Linked DNA regions of Homo sapiens: region 2 is linked to region 1. The links come from fine-mapping of genetic effects on plasma protein levels. A gene starts in region 1. The other region holds a variant in brackets. All regions are shown on one strand. Distances are from middle to middle.

The links. PIP is the chance, under the fine-mapping model, that this variant and not a neighbour inherited with it causes the effect. The UK Biobank Pharma Proteomics Project read protein levels with antibody pairs (Olink). The fine-mapping took linkage between variants from a reference panel, not from the people measured, so its PIPs are less certain.
Region 2: its variant is fine-mapped to the plasma level of the VTCN1 protein (UK Biobank, PIP above 0.99).

The regions. Positions count from the first base shown.
Region 1 is chr1:117,206,785-117,217,023 of GRCh38, forward strand. VTCN1 (V-set domain containing T cell activation inhibitor 1) reads right to left here and starts at 4,143. Exons shown (of 6, transcript NM_024626.4): 1 at 4,040-4,143. The coding sequence starts at 4,071.
Region 2 is chr1:117,175,696-117,185,934 of GRCh38, forward strand. All of the region lies in intron 1 of VTCN1 (V-set domain containing T cell activation inhibitor 1), which reads right to left. Among named protein-coding and RNA genes, the nearest start is that of VTCN1, 30 kb to the right of the region's middle. The variant T/A (reference allele first, on the strand shown) is at 4,990.

The DNA of each region.
Region 1 (10,239 bases):
TGCAACAGGTGGAGATGGGGGAAAAGCATAACACTCAGAAAATCATCTACCCTCAATAGGAGCAGGAACACAGGTGCCACCTATTTAAGTCTTTCTTCCAATGTACAATTTATCTCATTTTGCAGATTCCTGTCCTGTTCACGGGATGGACTCAGAAGGTTCTGAAGGCTCAGATTTTATAGGCTCAGGGAAGCTGAAAGTTGGACACAAATACGGCCTGTGCTGAGATCTCCTCAGCCCAGGCTCAAGCAAGATTTTCTTACCAGACAAGCTTCCATGGTGTTGCGAGGCACTGTTTTCTCTGACCTTCAAGGTCTGAGATGTCTGAGCCAGGCACCAGCTTGCAAACTTAGGAGAAATGGGAAACCAAAATTCCAAAGCAAACTCCCTGAGCCTCCTTGTCCCAGGATCCCTCATTCTCTACTTCATCCACCTTCCTATGGTAGAAAGATCCCTGCTCCTTCTCTACTCAGTAGCTTCCTTCCTGTGACATGTTTTTATCAATGCCATTGTCACTAGTGATTTCAGATGAAACAGGGTAAAGGTTTATGGATCACTAGCCTTGTGTGTTCCATGAAACTCTGCTCTGTTGACATCCATTAATCTCTATCCTGGCCTCTTGCTACCTGTCTTGCCATTTATTCTCAGCTCTTTCCCTGACCCCCCTCTTCCTCTGCCCACCCTTGAATGTTGGTGTTCTTCAGCCATCCGTCCTGGCCCCTTGCTTCCCTCCCTCCACATGCTCTCCGTAGGAGCCACCCCCTATGACTATTCCTTGCCCTTGAGCTATTGACACTAGATGTCTATCCCCAGGCCTGACCTCTCCTAGTTTTAGCCTCATGCCCTCTGCTGCCCAGGGAGCATCCCCATCTGAAGGTCCCAGGGGAATCTCAAGCTCAACACATTAACTAGCTCTCCTCTCTCTTCCTTGTCCCCAACTCACTGCACCCAATCCAGAAACATGGTAGTCATTCCAGGATCTGCCCCTTGCCTCACCTACTCTTATTCTGCAGCATCCTACCTGCCCCTCCAATCATTGATCAAATATCACCAGTTTTAAGTCCAGTGTTTCCTGAATCCATTTTCCTCCTGTAGTTCTTTACTCTCACTCTCATCTATGCCAGGTCCCTGTCATCCTGTATACTCTGACCACAACTGTTTCCCAACTCTTCTTCTGGCCTCCAGGCTTGCTGCCCACCTGAGACGAAAACCACCTTGACCCCCCTCTGAAGGCTCTGAAGGCTCAGATTTTATAGGCTCAGGGAAGCTGAAAGTTGGACACCAATATGGCCTGTGCCTGTAAGGGCTCCTCATCACCACAAATCCCAGTTCTGAGTCTATCGAAGGCCCAGTGTGACCTGGTGTGACCTCTCAGCCTCATCTCCCAGCATTTCCTGCCTCAAACTTCATGTTATGATGATAATACACAGTAGTGTGTAGCTTTCCAACACACCATGCTCATTCATGAGTTTTATTGTATTTGATTTAATTCTGTTTCCTCTACCTAGACAGCCTTTTCCACCCTTCTTCACCTGGGTCATATGAACTCATTTTTCAAGACACAGCCCACCCATTCTCTGGCTCAGAAACCCTCCCCAAAAGCCTTGGGTGAGGGAAGTGCTCCCCTTGCAACCTGTGCTTATTGTCTGAGGACTTAAGGGTGGCGCGTTAGAGTTGTTATGTGGGAGTCTTTCTCCTCCATTAGGTTATGACCTTGACAGCATCTTAGTCACTTTTGCCCCATTGTCTAGTGCAATATTCAGGACACAGTGAGTGCTCAGTTAATATTGTTGACTGGAACTTAACCCCCTCAGAGCAAGGGTTTTCTACCCCTGTCCTCCTAGCAAGCATTCTGCAAATGTTTCATGAGCGAATGCTGCTGCTGTCAACAGCCATGATGGGGAGAGGGGAGGAGGGTTCTAGTCACACAGTTCCTAAATGTGCACAGAGGCCAGGCACGGTAAAATCTGCACATCAGCATTCCATCCCTGAGCAGCATGCATGCTGAGAGTGAGATCTGAAGGAATTAGGCTCTCTGGAAATTATGAATACTTAGGAGAATAACTCACTGGGTCTGCAGAGGATGGCAGGCCCTTTCATGAGCGTTCCAACATCACCACTGTCATGATCACCTCCAGGAGAGGTATTTTTATGAATTAAGGCCATTATGACAAAGGAAGAGGGTTATTAGGGTCAAGAGTTACCCCAGGCAGGCTCCACCTGCATCCCTGAGATGAGCTTTCATGATCCTGCTCCCCACTGAAGCTGCTCATTGGCCCTCTTCCTGGAGGTCCCTTGCACAAAGGATCTGCCACCCTCATGGACAGTCGCTGCTTCTGAAACTGCAGAGCATGAATAGCCAACAAGGCATGCAGGAGCCAACAAGAGGAGTCTCTGTTGATTCCAGTGGGTTTCTGAAGGGTAGGGGATACGAATTTTGAACACCCACCTCCTGCTAATCCTCCAGCAAAACCAGTCAGACTGGATGCAAAGCATTACGAGAGAGCCCACACATCCCATCTGACCTCTGAACAATGGAGCCACTTGTTGCAGGAGGAGTGTTTCATGTCCTTGGGATCAAGGCTGGAGGAATGGTGGGCATGGAGAACTGGGACTGGCAGGAGCAGGGGCAAGGGTGGCAGGGGGAGAGAGCTTGGGATTTCAGAGCAAGATCCCCTCATGCACAGTTTCACAGTCATCTGGCCTTAACTTCTCTGAGGTGATAACGAGTCTTCACAAGGCAGTGGTGGACACGCTGCTCTAAGACACCTAGTGCAGGGCAGGGAAGGAGTCACTCACAAAATGCTAGCTCCTCTGACATAGGTGCTTCTTAGGGACATCCTCTCAGGGCAGAAGGGTCTAGAGGGAAGCCCCTGCCACCCACTGCTTCTCCTGGAGCACAGTGCTGTAGCCAGGCACAGGGGTGGGGGCAGAAGTGCCGCTGCAGCCACCCCCACCAGCCCTGCAGAGTCCTTCACCTCTGCTACCCGGCAGGTGATTTCAGATAAACGTGAGTCGAGTCAGGGGAGCTGATATTTTGTTTCAAGGAAAAGAACTTTCTAGGCTGCCTCTGGGAAGTAACATTACTCTCGTAGTCTCTTCACAAACTTTTCACTGTTGACCTGAGGATTCCTTTCCTCTCTCCTTCCCTCTCTTCTTTTCTTCCTTTTGTGGGAAAAAGAAACAAATTGGAGGACTGGTCCTTCAAACAACCTCTAGAACCAACAAGTATCAGCCTCCCTAAACACTGTCCTGAGTTGTGACTGACACTGAATCAATCATTTCAAGAAAACCCTGCACTTTCCATCTCTTTCCTTCCAGGAGGGTAAATGCTGTTCTGAGGGAAAAAGAGGCAACTAGAATGTAGCTCAGGGGAGAAGCAAAAGGTAGGGGAGGGAACTTGCTTCCTTCTTCCTCTCTGGGGAGTTCAGCAGCAGCAGCAGCAGCAGCAGCAGCAGCAAGTTCTCCTCTCCAAGGAGCTCCTAGGAAAACTAGGGACCCAACCTTTGAGCTGGGGGGGCCTGGGGAGGGGTGTTGGTGTGAATTGCTCAAGAGTAGCAAGAAATCACACCCACAGAGAATGAAAGCACATTCTCCTCCGTCCCCCTGGGGGCTGCATAAAGGGTCCTCCTGCATCCCCTCCACTGTCGCAGTCATGGATTCCCTGCCATCCCACCATGCAACCCACACCAGCCTGCTCAGTGTCCCCATGGTGCTCACAGCCTTGACATCTCAGGGGAATGCCCAGCTTGGCACGTACTCCCCTCAGTCCAAGCTGCCCAGCAAGCGCCAGCCCTCCATGGCAGGCCACCAACCAAAAACCTCCCTAACCCTGAACAGGTGCCTTGAGCAGCTGAGGTGGGATGTTAAGTCAAATCCAGTTAGGCTCTTGTCTGGCCAGGCTCCCGCTGGCCCAATGCTGGATCAGATAAAATTACAGGTGGGGTCCTATGGGACAGCCCAGCAGTGCTCAGCATCCCCAAAAGACCTCACTGCTGTTCCCTTCACCCATAAGGATAGAGAGAAGAGTATATACTACCTCCAGAAGAGGATCTGCCCCAGGGAAGCCATGGCTGGGGAAGGTTCCCAGCGTATCTGGGTACTGGCTGAGTGGAGCTGCCGCTGCCTTCCTTGGTGACTCACAACCAGCTCCCGTGTATTGGCCTTAAATAGTGTGTTGAGGCCGGGAGTGGTGCGTGCAGCTGTAGACGGCTCAGGTATGAGGAAACTGGCTGTGCAGAATTCCCTGCAGGCACAGTGGCTGCCTGCTCCGGCCAGCCAGCCAAGCCAGGGGCTCAGAGCTGCCTTTCCAAGTCTTGACTTTGGGAGGGTGACGAGGAAAAGCTTCCCTGGCCCTTGCTTCAGGGCCTGCATTCAGCAGGACTTTCCTCCTGACTGTGGAAGGGAGCTGTAGGGAGGGAGATTTAATCTCAAAATAAGAAAGGACTGGAATAGCTCAAAGTGTCAGGCTATGCTGGGAGCCTTGGGGCCAGGAGTCCCCATCTCTGCTGGTAGATGACGCTCAAACAGAGGCTGGGTCACCATTGGTCAGGTCTCTCGTGGAGGAGACTCATGCTGGGGGACCTCAGGAAGGCCATGAGCTGAAGTGACAAGACCACTGAGTTTGTCACTCAAGACTGAACTTGCCTAGGTCTCCTGAGATGCCCAGCTGGGTGTGCAATTCTCTTCCAGCTTCATTTCAGTGGGAGCAGGAGAGGGCCAGCACTTCCCACCTTGCAATTTTTTTGAGACTCCAAAAAGACACTGAATGTGCTCTGCTTCAACTGCCCCTCTCTCTGGAGATCCCAATACTCAGAAGCTATTGCTGTCAAAGGTGAGTGGGTTAGCAAAAATCTCTGACATTTCATCCAGCAGATTGCCAACTAGGCAAGATTCTCGTTAAAGCCTAAACGTTGCTCTCTCTCTCTCTTATTCTCTCTCTCTCTCCTTATTGTTTCCTCCAGCCCCCAGAAGTACCTTGGATGGGAAAGTTTCATGACTGGTTGCCTGGCTTACTGCTGCTGCTGACTGACTATGTTTGCAGTGAAGGTGCTCCAGGCCTTCAGCAGCATCCTCCTAGTGTTTGCGTATGGGCAGGTGGAGCAACCATTGAGTAAAGATGGAGCAGAGAGAACTGAGTGGTGAAAATAAGGCAGCAGGAGAGGGCAAGGTCACAGTGGAAAGACCTTTAGAGTCAAACAGCTAGGTTCAATTCCTGGGTTCCTAATTAATCATGTGGCTTTGAGAACATCACTTTACTTCAATGTGTGTCTCACTGGGTTGCAGTGAGGGATAAATGAGAGGCGGGTCTATGTGCTTTCCCTTCCCCAGAATAAGTAAAGGGTGATGCCCTGGAATCTATGCAGTGCCAGTGCTGAATGGTCACTTCCCGGGTCTGGGGAAGCTGAGGGCAGTGGGAGCAGTGGTTTCTGTAATTCCAACCAAAGGCACAGGGATTCTGCCCTACCCCTCAATGAGCCTTAAGAAGAGCAGCTTCAGCTGGGCACAGTGGCTCAAGCTTATAATCCCAATATTTTGGGAGGCCAAGGTAGGAGGAATTTTTTTTTTTTGAGACTGAGTCTCGCTCTGTTGTCCAGGCTGGAGTGCAATGGTACAATCTTGGCTCTGTAACTGTAACCTCTGCCTCCTGGGTTCAAGCGATTCTCCTGCCTCAGCATCCCAAGTAGATGGGATTATAGGTGCACCACCGCACTCAGCTAATTTTTGTATTTTTAGTAGAGACGGGGTTTCTCCATATTGGCCAAGCTGGTCTCGAACTCCCAACCTCAAGTGATCCACCCACCTCGACTTCCCCAAGTACTGGAATTACAGGCATGAGCCACTGCGCCTGGCTGGTAGGAGGAATTCTTGAGCCTAGCAGTTCGAAACTAGCCTGAGCAGCATACTGAGACTTCGTCTCTACAAAATTTAAAAAAAAAAAAAAAGAATCCATCTAGTAACAGGAAAACAAACAAAAAATTAGCTGGGCATATAGTCCCAGCTGCTCAGGAGGCTGGGGTGGGAGGATCACTTGAGTGGGGCTTGAAGCTGCAGTGAGCCATGATCGTGCCAGTATACTCCACGATGGGCAACAAAGCAAGATGCTGTCTTAAAAAAAAAACAAAAAAGCAGCCCCACCTCAAACACCCTGGGGCAGAGCCATGGAGTTTCTCTCTTCTAGCCATGCATCATCACTAAAGGGACAGCTAAGGATGACCCTGGAGGGAAAATCAAGACAACCCAGCAGAGACACCTCCGAGTGAGAGGGAAAATGTAGCTGAAGTGGCCCACCTGTTAGAGGGCAGGCATTACCTGGCAGGGATGTGGAGCTGAAAAGCATTCTGCTGCCTCTGGAGAAGCAAATGGACAGTACTCTGGTTCTGACTCCAAAACTTGAAGAATATCACACACAAAATAATGAGGGAAATCATTACAAAGCAACAGCCCAAAAGTGTGTGTGTGCGCATGTGCACGCGCGTGCACGTGTAAAGAGAGAGTCTTGGAAACATTGAACTCTCCAGCATTTGAAAGCCTCTCTTGGCTCCCCTGACACTGTTCTCTGAGACTCTCACTAATGCCCCTCACTGTCTTGTGCCCAGGCCCTTTTCCTTCGCCTCTCCCATAAGTGATAGGGGTCCCTGTGGTCCTGTCCTCTGCCTTTTCTTCTCATAGCACACATGTGCCCTGGGCAACCTTGACCACTGCTCTGCTTCGACTGCTCTGGAGATCACAATATCTGCATCCTCAGCTCCCTTCCCTTGACCAAGCCCCAACCCCACATACCCAGCTGCTTAGTGGACATCTCCAATCGGCTGTCTAGAAGGCACCATCTCCCATCTCTAACCCGGCTGCTCCCCCTAGGTCACATCTTTTGGAACACAACAGCATCCCACACTAGGCTGCCACAGTCAGAAACCTCAAAGTCACCCTTTATTCCGCCTGCCTGGCTCCCTACATCCCTGATTCCTCCTCCTTGGGTTAGTCTACTAAGGCTGCCATAAAAAAGTACCATAGACTGGTGGTTGAAACAATGGAAATGTATTTTCTCACAATTCTGGAGGCTGCAAGGCTGAGATCAAGGTGTCAGCGGAGTTAGTTTCTCCTGAGGCCTCTCTCCTTGGCTTGTAGATGGTTTCTTCTCCCTGTGTCTTCACGTGGCCTTCCCTCTGTGTGTGTTTGTCCTGATCTCTTCTTCTTTTTTTTTGAGACGGAGTTTCACTCTTGCCGCCCAGGCTGGAGTGCAATGGCGCGATCTCGGCTCACTGCAACCTCCACCTCCCAGGTTCAAGCAATTCTCCTGCCTCAGCCTCCCAAGTAGCTGGGATTACAGGTGCCCACTAACATGCCCAGCTAATTTTTTGTATTTTTAGTAGAGATAGGGTTTCACCACGTTGGCCAGGCTGGTCTCGAACTCCTGACCTCAGGTGATCCACCCGCCTCGGCCCCCCAAAGTGCTGGGATTATAGTGCCAGCCCTAATCTCCTCTTCTTATAAGAACACCAGTCATATTGGATTAGGGCCCATCCTGATGACCTCATTTTAACTTAATTACTTCTTTGGAGGCCTTATCACCAAATACAGGGGGTTAGGACTTTATGAATTTTGAGGAGAGACATAATTCAGCCCGTAAAACTCCTCTATGCCTCCTAAGTCCATCCCTTCTCTCTATCCCCAATACTATTGCCCAGATTTCCTCCCTCATCATTTCCAATTTGAATTAAACTATTAAATAGTGTCCTTTTCCTAGTCTGCCTCTACTTGTGCTGATCCACCCACTTCCACTAGAATGATCTTTCTAAAATGCAAATCTGATGAGGCACTTGCCTGCTTGAAATGACCAATGCCTCTCCAGAGCCTGTGGTCTGGCCTCTGCCTACCTCTCCAGATTTTTCCCTCATGTCTCCTTTTGGTCCTCTGTGGACCAGCCGTACTGCACTGCTTCAGGTTGCTCTAAAATGCCAGCGTGCTCTCCCAAGCCATCCTGCCTTTACACAAGTTGCTCTTTCTACCTGGAATCCATCCCTGCCTTTTTCTTGTTTTATATAAAATTTATGGGAAACTTTCCCAACAACTACCATCTGGCAGGTGCCATGCTTCGGGATCCCATGTGAACCTGGTGCTACTTACTATGCTCCTAAATTGGGACCATTGAATTGTCTGTCTCCTTCACTAGACACACCTTAGAAATAGAAAGGTGTCTTATTCATTTTTGTATTTCACACCAGCATAAGGCATGCACAGAGTAAGCAATCATTAGATGTTTGTTGGATAAATGTACATTTTTCTTTCACAGCACACAGTAATGGTACTATTTTCCATTTATGCATCTATCTCATTGCTAGTCTGTGAGCTCTTGGAGGGTAAAAACTAGGCCTCGTTCATCTTTTTTTGTTATCAGGTCCTAGCACCGTGCCAGGCATAAAAAGCACTCAGTAACATTTGATGGATGAGTAAGCAGGGATCAACTTGGGGTGTGATCAGTCATTTTCCAGAGGAGATGTCTTCTGAGCTGGATTGACACTATTAGAGGCAGCAGAGAACAAGTTGCATTTGAGATAGAGGAACAATTTATGATTAGGACAAAGGTAAAGCAGACGTAGGAGATAAGCACAAAATCTATTCTCTCCTTGTTGATCTTGGGGAAAGAGAGAGACAGAGATTACTTAATGTATCTGGAACCAAAATGTCTTATGAATTTTTTTTTTTTTTTTTTTTTTTTTGAGACGGAGTCTCACTCTGTCGCCCAGGCTGGAGTGCAGTGGCGGGATCTCGGCTCACTGCAAGCTCCGCCTCCCGGGTTCACGCCATTCTCCTGCCTCAGCCTCCCAAGTAGCTGGGACTACAGGCGCCCGCCACTACGCCCGGCTAATTTTTTTGTATTTTTAGTAGAGACGGGGTTTCACCGTTTTAGCCGGGATGGTCTCGATCTCCTGACCTCGTGATCCGCCCGCCTCGGCCTCCCAAACTGCTGGGATTACAGGCGTGAGCCACCACGCCCGGCCTATGAATTTTTTTAAAAAATTATTTAAATAGCCCAGTCACCTGGAGCTCTGTTTTCTCATTGTGTAGCTGCATATTTTCCTGCGTATAAGGCTTACATTTCCTTGGAATCACAGCACATTCTGGCTCTGATAGGAAGAGCACCCGCCCATGAGTGAATGTGGACCTAGCCGGTTGTTCCAAGTGCTGGCACAGAAGCAGGCTCTGTGCTGTGCTTGCGACTGGACCAGGCATGTTGCAAGCCACTCCCCTGGTGGTCTCTGGCATCCAGACAAGGGGAATGCAGTGGCACCTAGGCAGGGGTGTCCATGACCCCAAAGCCCCAGAGGGGGTGTTACAGCATGCTAATTAGCTCTTATAGTCCCGGCTTCTGCTGCCTAGTGGACAGTGGCATGTTAACAGCTCTGTCATTTCCTTGCCCCACTCTCGCCAGCAGCTCTGGGGCAAACTTGGCACCACCACTGCTTTCCGTTGCATGGGGCAGCTGCCCTTCACCAGTCCCATGTCCAAAAAAAATGAGGTCATGCTGACAATCAAAGGGTTGGGCCTGAACAAGGCCTGGGCAGGGGCATTGCTGGCAGGAGCTCTCCAACTGGCAGAGTGATCAAGAAAAATCCTGTGTCATTGTGACTTCTGGAGTAATGGCTGGCAATTGTTTATGTCTACACCTTAGCAGAATTCAGGCTCCCCTATCCTCCTAGCCTGGTGGTCTCTCATTAGCTTTACAAAGGCAGTTAAGTTTGGCGGAAGGGCTATTCTCACTTAAACTATAAACTAAATGTCTCCCAAAATTAGCTTGGCCCAAGCCCAGTAATAATTAAGTATAGCTTGAAGGCTAAAGGCCAGAAATGAGTTGGCTAGATCAGATCTCCCCAACTGCCATAATTTTCTCACTGTTATAATTTCTGCAAAGGTAGTCTCAATTCTGATAAACACCTTGTCATTAGCAGGAATTTGGAATCCTGCTAAAGGAGAAGAGATCTTATAATATTTTGCAGAGCTGGGAAGAGCAGACCTTGTAGTCTTAATATAGCAAACTTCAAACGGCTAATTGAAAGGGATGCTGACATCTGGTGAAATATTAACGAGCTATCACTTTGTCTGAGACCTTGACTTTCTTCCACTAGTTACTAGGGCCTCCATATAAGGGAAGGGCTGATTGCTTCGTCACTGGCCAGGCAGAGGACCAGTATCTAAGGCAGATGCTATGCTTCCTCTCCATTCCTCCTTCCTCATCCT
Region 2 (10,239 bases), 31 kb before region 1:
AGCGGACAGGCTGTATTACTGTATCACACACCAAAAAATAAACCAGAAGAGAGATACCTATCTCTCTCTCTCTCTCTCTTTTTTTTTTTTTTTGAGATGGAGTTTCACTCTGTTGCCCAGGCTGGAGTGCACTGGCATGATCTCAGTTCACTGCAACCTCCGCCTCCCAGGTTCAAGCGATTCTCCCGTCTCAGCTTCCCGAGTAGCTGGGATTACAGGCACGTGCCACCACGCCCGGCTAATTTTTTATTTTTAGTAGAGACAGGGTTTCACCATGTTGGCCAGGCTGGTCTTGAACTCCTGACCTCAGGTGATCCACCTGCCTCGGCCTCCCAAAGTGCTGGGATTACAGGTGTGAGCCACCATGCCTGGCCAGAGACACCTATCTCTTAAACAACCTTTCATTTATCAGAGGTCCATGGCATGGCATAACAAGAGCCGATGCTTATCAGGCATAATGCCTCATTATATTGTTTCTCATTCAACCCTACAGCAACCCCATGAGGTAAGTACTACTCTCATTACCTTTTTACATGTGGGGAAACTGAGGCTTAGCTTAAGTAACAGATGAAGCTGTCACAGCTGGAAGGTGGGAATGTCAGGTCTCAATTTGAGGGTGTATGACTTACAGACTTGAGGTCTTAACTACATGCTATACTTCTAGAAAAAGTGGCAGGAGGCCTCATGTTTGGAAGGCTCCTGTCACCTCCTCGAGCACCTTTTCTAAAAACAAGAGCTTTCTGGATCTGCTACACAGTGTGGAAAGCTCAAAATGCTCAGTCTGGAAAACATAAAATGCTTTTTGTTTTATTCAAACATGAATGGTTTCTATGTTCTCGAGTTTCTGCCTCCTTCTCAAATACTAACAGAACTGGGAGATACCACATTCCTTATAGATCATTAGTTTAGCTCCACTCGTGTGATTGATAAATGTTTAAAACCCTGAAAACTAGATTAGTTTTGCAAATGTGTGATTTATTTGAATATACCAAGGAGGATATTTGAGTAAATCAAGTTGCAGCAAACATATTACATTGTTCACAAACCAACGAGGTGACTAGGTTTATAAAGAATGCTGAAATTAAAGACATTTACTTCAGCCTATCCAAAGAGGAGATTAAGGCTGAGTGTGGTGGCTCATGCTTGTAATCCCAGCACTTTGGGAGGCCCAGGAGGGCAGAGCACTTGAGGTCAGGAATTTGAGACCAGCCTGGCCAACATGGTGAAAGCCCGTCTCTACTAAAAATGCAAAAATTAGCCGAGCGTGGTGGTGTGCATGCGTAGTCCCAGCTACTCGGGAGGCTGAGGCAGGATAATCGTTTGAACCCAGGAGGCGAAGGCTGCTGTGAGCCGAGATCGTGCCATTGCACTCCAGCCTGGGCAACAGAGCAAGACTCCATTTCAAAAAAACCAAAAAAACAAAAAAGGAAAAAGAAGATTAAAAGCGGGAAAGGAAATTTCTTTATGGGGAAAAAGTATTTCCTATAAAGGGGAAAAGGAATTATTTTAAATGCTATGTGGAATAAAGCATTGGGCTTCAAGGTAAAACTAACCATTTCCTAGATATTGATTAGCATAGGTTTCAGGTTTCTGAGAAGCTTAGATTGTTGTCTACTCCAGTTTTTGCTTTGCTGAAGAATTCAAGGTGTAGAGTATGTTTCCTGGCCTCTACCCCTCTCCCTGTATCTCTTTATACTGGTAAAGTCAAGGCTGGCTTTGGTCCAGGAAACCGAGAGCAGAAGCATCAGGAATGGTGAGTGCAGGCTTGAGGAGAACTTTGCAATGAGGAGGAGTCATTATGTGGGGCTTGAGGGGTGTGTGTGGAAGAGACAGGACATCCTTTCTGGGCAGCCCCTGCTCCATCAACATGGCAGCAGATGGCCAGGCTTTGTATTTGGGAAAGGAATTTTGGGGAATTGCATATAAGAGACTTGGCTGCTGTTGAGTATCAGGTTGAAGCATCCTCTTTTCTTTCTAGCTACCCCCAAGAATCACAGCACAGTTTAGTGGATTCTTCCAAAGCACAGGACCCAGAATTAAATCATGACCTGGGTCCCAACACTGTAAAACTAGGGTAATATGGCTGGCAGAAAGATTTCATCTTGTATGCCAACAATCATTTGAATGACTGGTAGTGGTGGCTTAGAATATTGTGTTGAAAAAGACTGCAAGATTGCCTCTGTGCTCACAGGGAAGAGTGCCACCACTAATGAGTGTTTTCTTTTCTTTTTTTTTTTTTTTTTGGCGGGGTAGGTTGGGGGTGGCGACAGCCTCATTTTGTTGCCCATGCTGGAGTGCAGTGGTGCGATGGTGGGTCACTGCAGCCTTGGCCTCCCACACTCAAGCAATCCTTCCACCACACCTCCCCCAAGTAGCTGGGACTACAGGTGCACACCACCCAGCTAATTAAAAAACAAAAAATTTGTAGAGACAAGTTCTCACTATGTTGCCCAGGCTGGTCTCAAACTCCTAGCCTCAAGTGATCCTCCCATTTTGGTCTCCAAAAGTGTGGGGATTACAGGCACACCTGGCTGAGTGTTTTTGTTCTTTCTTTCTTTTTTTTCTTTTTTTTTTTTTTTGAGATGGAGTCTCTCTCTGTGACCCAGGCTGGAGTGCAGTGTCGTGATCTTGGCTCACTGCAACCTCCACCTCCTGAGTTCAAGCAATTCTCCTGCCTTAGCCTCCTGAGTAGCTGGGATTACAGGCATGTGCCACCATGCCTGGCTAATTTTTTGTATTTTTAGTAGAGATGGGATTTCACTATGTTGGCCAGTCTGGTCTCAAATTCCTGACCTCAAGTGATCCGCCCACCTCGGCCTCCCAAAGTGCTGGGATTGCAGGCGTGAGCCACTGCACCGCACCTGGCCTTCAGTGTTTTCTTTTCTTTCTTTCGTTTTTTTTTTTTTTTTTTTTTTAGAGACAGGGCCCGGCTCTATTCCCCTGACTGCAGTGCAGTTGCACAGTCATATCTCACTGTAGCCTTGAACTCCTAGGCTCAAGCAATCCTCTCGCTTTAGCCTCTTGAGTAGCTGGGACTACATACATGTGCCACGACGCTCAGCTAATTTTATTTCATGTAGAGACAGGGTTTCACTATGTGGCCCAAGCTGGTCTCAAACTCCTGGCATCAAGCAATCCTCCCACCTTGGCCTCTAGAGTATTAGGATTATAGGCATGAGCCACCACACCCAGCCTTATGAATGTTTTCTAAGTGAGCACGTGGGCCCTGTGTATTCCATCCCTGGGTTAGCAGAAACACATGAAAGGAGGCTTTAATTCACTGCTAGCTACAAAACCACGGGAATCTCAGGCTAATTTAATAGCAATGTAGTGGCGGTACAATAGCAATGTTAGCTGACACTCATCCATGCACATTTTTGGCCCACACTTTAAAAAGAACACTGATTAACATGCATACTTAGAACAGGGTTTCTCAAACTCCGTACTACGAACTATTTGTGCTAGATAATTCTTTGTTATTGGGGGTCATCCTGTGCACTGTAGCATGTTTAGCAGCATTCCTGGCCTGTAACTTCCAGATACCAGTACTGACACTACCCTTGCTGTGTCGACCAAAAATGTTTCCAGACGTGTCACCCCAGCTGAGAACCACTGATTTAGAAGAAGGGAAATCAGGGCGGTGATATGACTGGAAATCATGTTTTTTGAAAAATAGTTGAGGGAACTAGGGTGGTTTAATTTGAAGAAGACTAAATATAGTGATATCATTTCAGTATTTGAAAGGTGGTGTTTGGCCTGTTCTCCATCACTCTGGAGGAAGAAACAGAGGCACTGAGTGAAAGTTCTAGGAGATTAGATTTAGACTCAAAATACTTTGGAGAAACTTTCCAACAGAGCTCGCGGAGACTGGCCTGCAAATGCATGTGCAAGCAGGGCCTGGGTAAACACACAGGGGGTGGGAAAAGTTTCTAGTACCAGATAAAGCTTCAAACAATTTTGAAAGGCCCTTTCAAATAATTAGTTACATGATTCTGTAATTTGATATTCCCTGGGATTTGCTCTGGCCTTGGCTTTGTCTGCACATGCCTCCTAAAACCTTTGTTAATCATATAAGAATGATAGCTAATATTTATCTGAGTACACTGCCTCATCGATCTAATCTAATCCCTATGACGACCTACGGAGATAGATACTATTATCTTTGTTTTATAGATGAGGAAGCTGAGGCCTAATGTTAAGTAATTCCCCTGAGGACTCAGTCCTGGGAAATTAAAGAGAGCAGGATTAGACTCAGGTCTCAGATGCCATCATCGTTGGTCTTAACCATTATCCCATATTTTATATTAATCAAAAGACTTGTAAATCTTGGGATTCGAATCAGTGGCTAGGCTTGTGTTTGTACAGTTGTAACTGATGGAAGGACAGCACATACAATCTTACATAGATTGAAAAAAATTTCTCTCCCCCCCAGGAAGTGTCTTTCATTTGGGACTCTGGAAGGAAAACTGGAGGGGGCATGAGTATCAGGTGGAAAATTTCACACTGTTAACAAATAGACACCTTTCCTTAAACCGTATTTGAGTTTGCAGCAAAGCCATTCTATATTATTCTTAAGCCTGTCCTATTTATAGCATCACCCTGATTGCCATAAGCATGTATTAGCATTTCTTCATCATCCTTGTGCACACTATTTTTCACTGGTACAAGCAGAGCGAGACAAAAGGCAATGTAAGGTTGATTACCAGTCCTTTTCGTAATCATACCTGTGTTTCCTGCTCCTCCTTATTCTCACTGCAGAGAAAAAAACATTTCCACAAGATTCCTTCAGCAGCATAACTGATCCCATTGTACTGAATAACAAACACACTCCAAACCTTTCATGACCCTCCCACAAAGGGCCTGTACTGTTAGAAAAGCTGAGTATCCCATAAGCAGTCTCTGCCATGTGAACAAAAACAGCCTAATTGTCTGTCTTCCAAAGTGGAGGTTAAGAGAGATTGCAGGGGTGCTCACAGCACCTGGGTGGGA[T/A]CTGGCTGCTAATGAACACTTCTTTTCATGGTTGGCTGTTGTCCTGGCTGCTGTCCATTCACCAACTCCTCCCCACCATAATCTTGGCATCCCCTTGCTCTCCCCGCCTCTCTCCACTTCTGCTCACCTCTCCTCCTCCAGCCCAGCCATAGATAAGGGCAGGAGCACTGCTCAGGGACAGCCTGATCATTTCTGGAATGGATGCAACAAAAAGAAGCTGCTGCTATTCCTCCCCTTATCCACTCTACAGAGAACCCGGCATTTCCTAATGGGGGCTCCACAGGAGCAGGAGACATGAACAGTTGGGCAACACTGCAATTCATCCTATACCTGCCTCCAGATTCAACACGACTTTTTCCACAGGGCTATCGTGAGGGTCCAAAGAAACAAACTCTTCCTTACAAAATGTAAATATTAGCTGTTATTTTAAAACTATAAATGTTAATTCTTGGCTAGGAGTGGTGGTTCATGCCTGTAGTCCTAACACTTTGGGAGGCCAAGGTGGGAGAATTGCTCGAGGCCAGGAGTTGGAAACTAGCCTGGGCAACATAGTGAGACCCTGTCTTTACAAAAAAAAAAAAAAAGTAAATGCTTATTTTTACTTTTCACTATTCCCAAATTTAAGTAACTCCTGATTGCTTATGAAAGTTCAAACTGTTCTTGACTGGTGGTCATGGAAAAGAAAAAGGAAAGTTGAAACTGATCCTAGAATTTAAGACCACCTTTAAATGCACCGAGCTATTTTTCTAACCCTTCTCCCTTTAGGAATCCCTGTATTCTCATCAGACTGTTCACTGCCCAGTTGCTCTCTGCTTAGAACACCCTTCCACCTCTTCCCAGGTAATGAGAAGCAGGCCCATCCAGAGCCTAGCTCAGCTCTGACCTGCCTCAGGCTCCTTCCTGAGGGCCAGCCCAGAACGTGCCCTCCCTTCTCTTTTTTAAATGGATTTAAGGGAGTGGGAAGGCAGGTGAACCTCAGGAGGCTGAACATGTGTGAAGACAAGAGGAGGAAGTGCTTGAGTGGCACTAAGGTTTGAGACAGGAGCTGGGAGGGGGAACTAGGCCCCAAAAGAGCTGAGAGGAAGAACAGGGCAGGCTCCCTGTGAGGGACGTGCATTTCAGCGAGGTCATCAGTCAGTGTGGTCATCAGTCAGCGTGGTCATCAGTCACCCTGGTCATCAGTCACCGTGATCTGGGCCTCAGGCAGATGGATGGCCTGACAGGGAGAGTGAGCTGTAATCTAGATTACCTTTGCAACACCCTAAAGCCACCGTGACTGTTTTGAATTTCATTCCTTTTCTTGCCTTCAGGAAACCTGTGCCTGTCACTGAAGAGATTCAGAGAAGCACTTGGGCTGGCTGCTTCTCGGAAAGCCTAGCCCTGGGATCAGTGCACTGTTTATTCATTAATAAAGCTGGAAACAAGTACGTCTATTGCCCTCAGAGCTTCTCTCTACGAAAGCCCATACACCTGTCTTAGGCAGTCTGATTTCTCTATGTACAATGTCATATTTGTACACTCCAAGTCTTCTGTCATCCACTATCTTTATTTTATAATGGCAGAAAGTCCTCCCAGTGAAAAGCAGACCACTGTATCCTAGAAGTAAGTAGAGGATGTATTGTTCAGTCTTCCAAAAGATCTACCAGGAGTTCCAATGCAAATCCTCGCCTGCTGGGACCTACATTCTCATATTTTAGACTGGGCCCCAGTTCTGTAGGTGTAGCTATGTAGAGCTTGTGAGAATTTAGGTATGAAAATCAGGCTGCCAGACCCACCCCTTGAGGGCCTGGCTTGCCTGAGCAATTTCCCGGCTGCAGCCCCTGCGGCTGCTCTGGTACCATAACAACCCTTGCCTGCCTATGTCAAGGGGCATTCTGAAACCCAAGGCAGGGAGACACTCCCTGTCCTAGGGTGGAGGCAACCTTATGTAGAACCCTTCTGTGGTCCTGACCATCTGTAGCAGACACAAAGGAAGCTTCCCAGGCCTTCCAGCCTGGAATCTGTAGTTTTCTTACTCCCTGGAGCTGCCTTCAACACAGGGCCTGCCTCGTGATTTCAGATTCTGTTACTTGGTCTTTTCTCTCTGGTCCAGCCTGACTTCCAGGGCACCAGTCTTAGTTTTCTTCTATAGATTTCAACATTCCCCTGGTAGAGACTCCCAACCTGATGCTATGTGCTGTGTCCTGTACCTACCCCACCTTTGGTTGCCATTCTGACCCACTGAAGCCCAGGGCCTGACACTGACCTGGAGATGGGCTACGGAGCTCTTATGAATCACAAGATGTCTGTTTTATTTTCTAAGCCTTCTATACATTCTGATACCATTTTTTAAAGAAAAAGAATAAGATTAAAATATAAAGTATTGATTTAAGCATAGAAAGCGAAGAAAGCATACTAAACCTGAAAGTTTGAATAAAAATATAAGCTCAAGAAGATTTTATATAAACCTGTGACTACTTTCTCCCATCTCCCGTCACCTCCACACTCCATCCATTCTAAACCACTCTGGGTCCCTGACTACGCCAGGCTGCTTCTTGCCTCCATGCCTTCGTTCCTATTATTTTTCAAGTTCTTGGAACATGCAAGGAACTTACCAAATGCTTGTTGAATAAATGCCCCACCTTACAGACTGCTTCCCTTGGAGCGTCTAGCACATAGTCTTTAAAATATGTTGAATTAATGAATAAATAAATATCCATGCTGTGCTACTGAGAGAAACTAACACATTCTTAACTTTTGAGAAACCATTTATGGGAGAAATGATCATTTATCTTTCTCTTTAAACAGTCTTTTAAAAAATTGTGGTATCAGAAATCTTGCTGATGCTATAAATTGTAACAAAATGCCTTGGAGGGTTGTACATGGAAGACCTGGTTGGCTGTGGCTAAGAAGGGGACCTAGAGATTCATAATAGCTGTGCTTGAATACTTGTTAAACTTGAGTCCTCTTGGACATTTCTCTCCACAAACAAGGGGCAAAATAGAAGTGTTTCTCTAAAAGAGAAAGGACATTGTAGGGAATGAAGAGTTAAATTTCCAGAATAGTGCATACTAAATAGCCTTTAAAAAAATCCTTGATAAAAATACTTGAAATGCTGAATAAAAAGAAAAAAATAAAAGACAAAACCACACACACATTTTTGGGTACTTCATTTTTGCCAGCAAGAAAAATGAGGGAGATTTGCAGAGGCTAAAAATGAAACCAGCACATGAGTCCAGATCAGTAAGAGAGTGCTGGGCGCAATGGCTATGCATTCCAGGGACCAAAAGCTTCTGTCTTCAGAGCCATACCAAACACCAGAGACAAAGCTAAGGGGCCATTCAAGCTGGGGACTCACTGCCAAGTAGGAGCCCTTTAAAATGAAATCTTGGTTTCAGAGGTTTTGGGAAATGGAGATGTTATGAATTCAGGCCTCAAATCTGCATGATGACTGTCTTATATATACACAGTTTCAGGGAATATATATTTTTTTCTTTACCCAGCACCAAGACCAAGTGAGGTTGTTGCCTTCTGGTACTCCCCCTGCCCCAGCTTTGCTGTGCAGCAGTCCAAGCTATCAAGAACCTTAAGATATGGAAGGCATTTGTTAGGCCAGTCCAGAGTCACCTGAAGTCTGGGCAGCACTGGGCTATCTGCGAGGCTGACTGAGCTTGTCCTTCCAGCATTAGCCAAGCAGGAGTGGCAACCTGTCTCTGCCATCCCTGACCAACACACACACAAAAAGTGACCAGAGGGAAAAGTTAAGCTTCAATGAACTTATCTAGAAATTTATAATCAGGAAAACTAGAAAGAAGTGACTTTAAGCAATTTTTTTTACCTTGTGTGTATTTTTATAGTTCAGTGTTCTTTATACTTTGAATTCTATGCTGGCTGGTAGGGGTGTCAGTGGGCAGTACTACCATCTTTTTAATACTTACAGCATATTTCTGAGCTTCAGGGAAGAATATTTAAAGTCCAGGGAGGAAGCTCCTTTCTTCACTTGGTGCCCTTCTTCATGATGTGTGTATGTAGCGTTGGGAGGATAGTGCCTGGCATGGAGCAAAGGCACTAAAGATGTTGGCTCCCTTTCCTGCTACTCAGAGGCTAAGGACCACAGCAAGAGCCAGGGTGACTGTGGATACCAAGCGTGTTGTGTTTCAAGGCCAAAGGGGTGAAGGATAGAGTTAGGAGAAGAATGTTTCATCCAGAGACACTTAGAGGCAGATTCTGTTAGGGACTGAGAATCCTCCTAGGCCTGGAAGCAATGCCCAGCCAGTTTTCCCTTAGTCTAGAAACTAATTAGCTTTGCTTCTTGCTAACCCAGAGGTAAGAAAAGGAACAAATGCTGGTACCTCTAATGCTGCCACAGCTAAGTCAGATCTTGACTTAGACTTAAGAAGTTAGGATAAATAACTAGCACCGTTAGTTTTATATTTATAATGTTTCTTAGTTTCTTCCATCTTTTAGGCATATCTTACCCAAACCAAGGGCAGAGACATTTTCTCATATTTCAGTCAAATACAACAGTTCCAAGTGGTCACTTCAAGTCTCAGGTTTCTTCCTGAGAAACCCAGGAAAGACCAAGTTGTGGCAGCAGAAACCAGGGCCCTATGGGAAAAGAGGCAGGAATGACTAGGGTCTTGGTCCTTTGCCATCTAGGCAATTTTTCTACTACTTCATGGAAGCCAACCACATTCCACCAGAAAAAGTTTCCATGGGCTGCCATCAGAATCAAAATATACCTAGGCTGGGGATGTCCTGATCAGTGCCAAAGTGGCATTTGTAAACCAAAAATAAAATTCTGAGCCCCCCAACCACCTGAATGGACCCCTCCTCTTGGCCAAGGGCATTCCAAAGTTAATCAGCAAAAGTAGTTCAGGCCGTGATAGGAAGCAGAGGGGGTCAGACATGCCCCATTATATCCTCCTCTCTTTTAGAATTCAAGAAAAGCCCACCAGCATTACAATCAACACAGGCTTTATCCGATAAGAAACACTTACAATGTATTCTCTCTGAAGCCTACTTGGAGGCTTCATCTGCGTGATAAAATCTTGGTCTCCACAAGCTCTTATCATAACCTAGAAATTCCTTTCTATTGATAGTAACTCTTTCAACCATTTGCGAGTCAGAAAATTTTTAAATCTACCTGTGACCTTGAAGCCCCCCAACCCCCACTTCAAGTTGTCCCACCTTTCCAGGTTGAACCAATGTAAAGCTTACATGTACTGATTGATGTCTTATGTCTTCCTAAAATGTATCAAAGCAAGCTGT